2 separate regions of the Homo sapiens genome follow, and region 2 is linked to region 1. Evidence: fine-mapped expression QTL. A gene starts in region 1. The other region holds a variant in brackets. All regions are shown on one strand. Distances are between the middles of the regions.

Region 1 (2,914 bases):
ATCCCAGCACTTTGGGAGGCCAAGGCCAGGTGGATCACAAGGTCAGGATATCGAGACCATCCTGGCCAACATGGTCAAACCCCATCTCTACTAAAAATACAAAAATTAGCTGGGCGTGGTGGCGCACTCTTGTAGTCCCAGCTACAGGCGCGCACCACCTGGGAAGCTGAGGCAGGAGAATCGCTTGAACTCAAGAGGTGGACGTTGCAGTGAGCTGAGATTGCGCCACTGCACTCCAGCCTGGGTGACAAGAGCAAAACTCTGTCTCAAAAATGAGAGACAGAGAGAATAAACTCCGTCTCAAAAAAAAAAAAAAAAGGTCAAGGAGTTAAAATTAATTTAAAAGTTTATAAAGTTAAAAAAGCACAGTAAGCTAAGGTTATTACCTTATTTTTAATAAACTTAGACTAAGCATACCGCATTTATAAAGTCTACAGTAGTGTACAGTAATACCCTAAATAATATCGTAGGCCTTCACACTCACATACCACTCACTGACTCACTTAATAGCTACCGACAGCCCTGCAAGCTCCATGCGTAAGTGCCCTATTCAGCTGTACCATGTTTTCTTTTACACTATATTTTTACAGTATCTTTTCTGTGTTTAGATACACACCATCCTTTTACAACTGCCTACAGTATTTAGTAGTTATACTGTACAGGTCTGTAGACTAGGAGTAACAGGCTATCCCATACGGCCCAGCTGTGTAGGTTTGTGCAAGTACACTATGATGTTCACACAACCACGAAACGGCCCAACCATTTCTCATAACTATACCAGTTCTTAAGGGGAGCATGGCTGTATTAAGCCACCACCTTTTTTGTTGTTGTTGTGGTCGTTGTTGAGACGGAGTCTCACTCTGTAGCCCAACCTGGAGTGCAGTGGGCGATCTTGGCTCACTGCAACCTCTGCCGCCAGGGCTCAAGCGATTCTCGGGCCTCAGCCTCCCGAATAGCTGGGATTACAGGCGCGTGCCACCACGCCCAGCTAATTTTTTGTATTTTAGTAGAGAAGGGGTTTCACCATGTTGCCCAGGGTGGTCTCGAACTCCTGAGCTCAGGAGATCTGCCCGCCTCGACCTCCCAAAGTGCTGGGATTACAGGCGTGAGCCACCGCGCCCGGCCTAAATTATCACCTTTTAAGACCAGCATCCCTGGCAACCCCCCAAGTCTCAGCTCCTAGTAACAGAAAGACCCCTTCCACAGAAGCTGAAGGGTGGACCCAATGAATTGGTGTGAGAAACTCCATGCCACTTTACCAGCGCACTCTTCGCTGAAGTTTATGCGACTGTCATAGTGGGGACCGAAGCTGTTCAAAAGGAAGTAGATTATCCTTCCCCTACGTACGTGGGAAGGGGGAGGCTCTGGGTTATCAAGAGGGTGAAGTGGGAGAGCCAAGCGGCCCACCCACAGGCGGATTCCAGGGCGGCTGGACGCACAGCCCCCAGCAGCCGGAGCCCAACAGCTGAGGTCGCCGCCCCTAGACAGCCCGCGCTCCAGCCAGCTCAGGGACCCAGCGGCTAAGCCTTCTGTCCTCCCAGCTTCCCACGCAAGTTCCGCCAGGCCAGAGGGAACGAACGACGAGACCCTGCAGCTTTGGTGGCTGAGAACCTCACCTCACCGCGCTACCGCGCAGCTTCTTACCGCGCACGAATCCCCCAGAGCAGCCGAGTTGGCGAGCCGGGGAAGACCGCCCTCCTGCGGTATTGGAGACCGGAAGCACATAGTGCCCGAGAGCGCGTCACTTCCGGCGTCACAGACGGTCTTTACAAGCGACTCGTGGGCGTCAATACTGGGCTGAGTTTGTGGCGCGCTTAGTGATGGGATGGCCCTGTGCAGGACGCCGACACGAAAAGATGAAGAGTTCAATCCGTGCTGTCTGAACTCACAGTGTAGCAGGCGAGATAGACGGGAAGATCGGTAGGGTGGGAGATGCCGGAAAGGCTTCCCGTGAGACTGGATAAGAAATCAAAAATCTGGTGAAATTGCCGGCAAGAGGGAGTTAAGGACATTCCAGGCAGAGGCAAGGTAAAGGCGCGGTGGGAGTGGGTCACTGTGATAAAAGTCTGAAAAGGACATTTGGGGGCTCTCTTGGGTGAGAGGCAGTGCCTCATGTCCCCCCTTCAGTGCTCGTTGAGCATTCAATTAAAATGTTAACACTTTGTAGCCAAACAAGTTCTCTTTTTAAGAGGAAAACCCTGGATTTCCAAACGGCTCATTTTCTGTAGCTTCTTGCAAATGGATACCACCACCAGCTGTGCCTAGTGAAAAAATGCAATTTACCAGGACCACTACTCTCAACAGTTTGCTCAATCCATTTAACCTTTTGAATATTTGTCCACTTCTTTTTATCTCTGTTGGCACCTCCTCCCTTGTCCCATATTGTACCTGTAGTTCTACAACTGGTCTGGGGATTCATTCTGCCCCAACTCCCTGAAATCCATTTTCCGTGTCGTAGGAACGGAACTTTTGAAAATGTAAATCATTACATTTAAAGCAGTACTGCTGTACTGCTTTAAACTCTCCCTTCGCTTCCCATTGTTTTAGGATGAAATTCGAACTCCTTATGAAGTCCCTGCCTACTTCCCTAGCCTCACCTTGCTCAGTCTCTCCTTTGAGCTCCGTGCATAGGATCATTTTTTCAATTTCTCAAATGCCGTGTGTACCTTGCCATCTCCAGGCCTTTACATTTGCTAGTCTCTTTGTATGGTACTCCTTTTCTTCTTCCAGTTACTTTCTACTCACCCTTCAAGGCTTTAAGTATTTTATTCTCAAGAAAGCCTTCCAGCCCCCTACCCCCATACTAGACCAATCCCCTACTGTGTGCTCACGGCAGTCTATACTTTCTTATGACACGGTTCACATTTGTAATTACACAATAATTGTGTAAGTTTATTGTATCCTCATTGCCTGG
Region 2 (2,914 bases), 53 kb after region 1:
TGTAACATAATCTAAGCAAACAAAGAAATTGACACCTAGACAAATAATAAAACTGCAGAATAACAGTGACAAAGACGTGAAGAGCAGTCAGAAAGAAAAGACAGTTTACCTACAAAGAAATGACAAACGAGCTGATTTTTTGATAATGAGCCCAGGTAGATAATATTTTTAGAAGCAATAACTGTCACCCTAGAACTGGGGAACTAGTCTAACCATTTTTTCAAAAATGAGAGTGAAAAACATTGATAAAAAACAGATCAATAACAAAGGAATTACTAAGCTATATGCTTCAGAAAGAAAGGAAATGACAGCATAAGGAGAGAGCCTGAAATGGAGAAAACATGTATAAATCTAAATAAGTATTTATATATTTATTTGTAATACAAGTACTGAACTACCAACAAACGATGAAAAAGAGGATAAACATGCACAGACAGAAACCCTGTTGGGTCTGCTACTGCCTAGAGATTTAGAAGGGCCAATTAGCCCCACAGTATCACCTAGCAGGGAGCTGTGTAATGTGGCTCTTTGAGTAGAGAACAAAAGAGTACGTAGTTCTCAGTACTCTATTTGATCTCCATAATGCCCAAATAAAGAGTGTATGGGCCCGGGATGGTGGCTCATGCCTGTAATCCCAGCACTGGGAGGCAAAGGTGGGCGGATCACTTGAGGCCAGGAGTTTGAGACCAGCCTGGCCAACATTGTTAGCTGTCTTTTAGTAGAGACAGCAAAACCCTGTCTCTACTAAAATTACAAAAAATTAATTAGCTGGGTGTGGTGGCATGCACCTGTAGTGTAGTCTCAGCTACTCAGGAGGCTAAGGCATGAGAATCACTTAAACCCAGGAGGTGGAGGTTGTAGTGAGCCAAGATTATACCACTGCAATCCAACCTGGGTGACAGAACAAAACTGTCTCAAAAAAAAAAAAAAAAGAGCATGGATTTCCCTCATATTTGGAAGGCTCCCAAGACTCAGCTGCAAGATGCTCCAAACTTAGCTGAATTGATTGCTTCAAAGAACTTGCTGATGTGTAAGGCTGTAGCTGAAAACCTGGGCCATCCAGTGAAGAATAAACATCAACTCCTAATAGAACCGTCATTTC[G/A]AAGTCTCTACTAAACCTGAATGTCCCAACTAAAAGCATCAAAGACCTTGAAAACATTTGAGAATGTTTATGTGTGCAAGTAACAAATCAAGCCTCTTCTGAGTAGGGGTTACAGGATATAGGTTACAGGATAGCCCAGGAAATCAGATTATTAGTTCTTCTTCCGTGCTAATATCTGCAAACAATTCTTTCAATTCTAAAGCCAGTAAGTTACTAAGAGCAGACAAGATATAAATTGGTCATTTCTTGAAGTTGTCCTGGGGACTTGTAAAGACCAACATTCATTCTCATCATGGAAACTTCTTTGCTCCCCTGCTAGATTTCAGGTCATCATGTCAGTATCCCTCCAAGAATAGATAACGGCTCTTCAGTGAGCTGCACCAGTGCTTCCTGGTCCTTGCTTGCAGCAGGCAACGCTAGCATACATCCTTTGGGCCATCTTATTTGCCATCACACCCTCAAACCCACTTTCTAACTAGAGAGAGGCAATGCTGTCACTCTAGAGGTTTACTGTAGAACTCACTAAAGTGAAAGAAGCTTTGCCCAGATTCTTTCCAGGCAGTATGGGCCTAAACATAAGCCAGACATGGTCTTCCTAAGCTAACAGGAAGTATGTTCCTTTCTGGGATTGACCAGGGATGACCCAAATGTCCTGGTCCCTATTTTTCATTCCTTAAATTGCCTATGCACTGATATGTGCCCAAGTCAGTGTCTGAGATGATAAATCTTAGGAAGCAGAGCCAAGAGGAAGGGGAGTGAATGGTCTCCATGTATAGTCCTGTGACCACTGGAGGTCTTCCTCCCTGTAAGGGTGATGTGTGAGTGGGTATCTGGCTCAGAATATTAATGTTTGAAGTGTCATATCCATATTTTAGTTCCTGGAAGGAACTAATTTAATTAATTTATAATTATTATTTTATTCCAAGTTCCAATACTGCCCTTGTGTCTGAGCAACAAAGGATGACTCATGCAGATAATCCTGGGGAAGCTTTGATTGTGGCTAGCAAAGCAATCTTGGAACTGAAATTCCTCAGTATCCTTGCTTTGATTCCTTGAAGAGAATTGACACAGACTCCAGGTTTTGGTGAAGCAAAGAATTCCTGCTTCCTTGACTCTGTTTTTGTCTCGCCAGAACACAAAGAGGCATTGAATTTCACTATTAAGGCCTTAATTAGTAACCTTGTTTGTGAAATTGAAACAAAGGTCTCACTGAACAGGCTGGTGCTCTGGCAATGGCTGTTCCATGCTCTCCAAAGACCCAGAATCAAGGCTTGCAATGAAATCACTTTTCCTCATGACTAAACTAAATCTCTCTTGCATGTTAAAAGTTAGTCTTTAAAACGCTGCGCAGTCAGAACATTGCTTTGTCTTACACATTTCCCTGTTACCTGGCAGGCCCCAAATGTTACATAAGCATTCTCTGCAGCTGTAACCCCTACTCAGAAGAGGCTTGATTTGTTATTTGCACACATGATAACATGTGGCATAAGTAAAGCTGGGAAGATGTTTGTTTGTAAGGGGTAATCTGTGTCTATCAAAGCAGATAGTATTGGTTTTGCCTAGTTTCCAAACATGGTTTTATAAGTCAGTATATCTTGTGAAACCATTAGGACAAAAGTTTGGAACAAAAAGAAATCTCAGGCTCATTGCAAAGCTTTTTTAACGTTTTCAGTTCCCTCCATGTTCTGAGCATTATCATAACGTACTGAACTGTTCTGTTCAGAGACCACTAGGGAGAGGAGATGAGGAACCAGAGCAGCCAGGATGTTTCTCCCTGGGATAAAATCTCAAGCATTCAGACACCCTCACTGT

Alleles and levels. Alleles are on the strand shown, and positions count from the first base shown. SD is a standard deviation of normalised expression in the study named.
In carriers of allele G in region 2, the expression in lung of the gene that starts at base 1,728 in region 1 tends to be lower than with A alone (large effect, 0.77 SD a copy in GTEx).

What was found. PIP is the estimated chance that this variant, and not a neighbour inherited with it, causes the effect.
Region 2: its variant is the best candidate, but not a certain one, in a credible set for the expression of ZCCHC9 in lung (GTEx, PIP 0.82).

The regions. Positions count from the first base shown.
Region 1 is chr5:81,300,401-81,303,314 of GRCh38, reverse strand. ZCCHC9 (zinc finger CCHC-type containing 9) reads right to left here and starts at 1,728. Exons shown (of 6, transcript NM_001131035.2): 1 at 1,617-1,728. CKMT2-AS1 (CKMT2 antisense RNA 1) reads left to right here and starts at 1,746. Exons shown (of 2, transcript NR_034123.1): 1 at 1,746-2,028. RefSeq lists enhancers at 420-1,209, 1,217-1,396, 1,547-1,646, 1,210-1,999.
Region 2 is chr5:81,247,071-81,249,984 of GRCh38, reverse strand. The region is part of intron 1 of CKMT2 (creatine kinase, mitochondrial 2); the gene reads right to left. All of the region lies in intron 1 of CKMT2-AS1 (CKMT2 antisense RNA 1), which reads left to right. Among named protein-coding and RNA genes, the nearest start is that of CKMT2, 15 kb to the right of the region's middle. The variant G/A (reference allele first, on the strand shown) is at 1,103.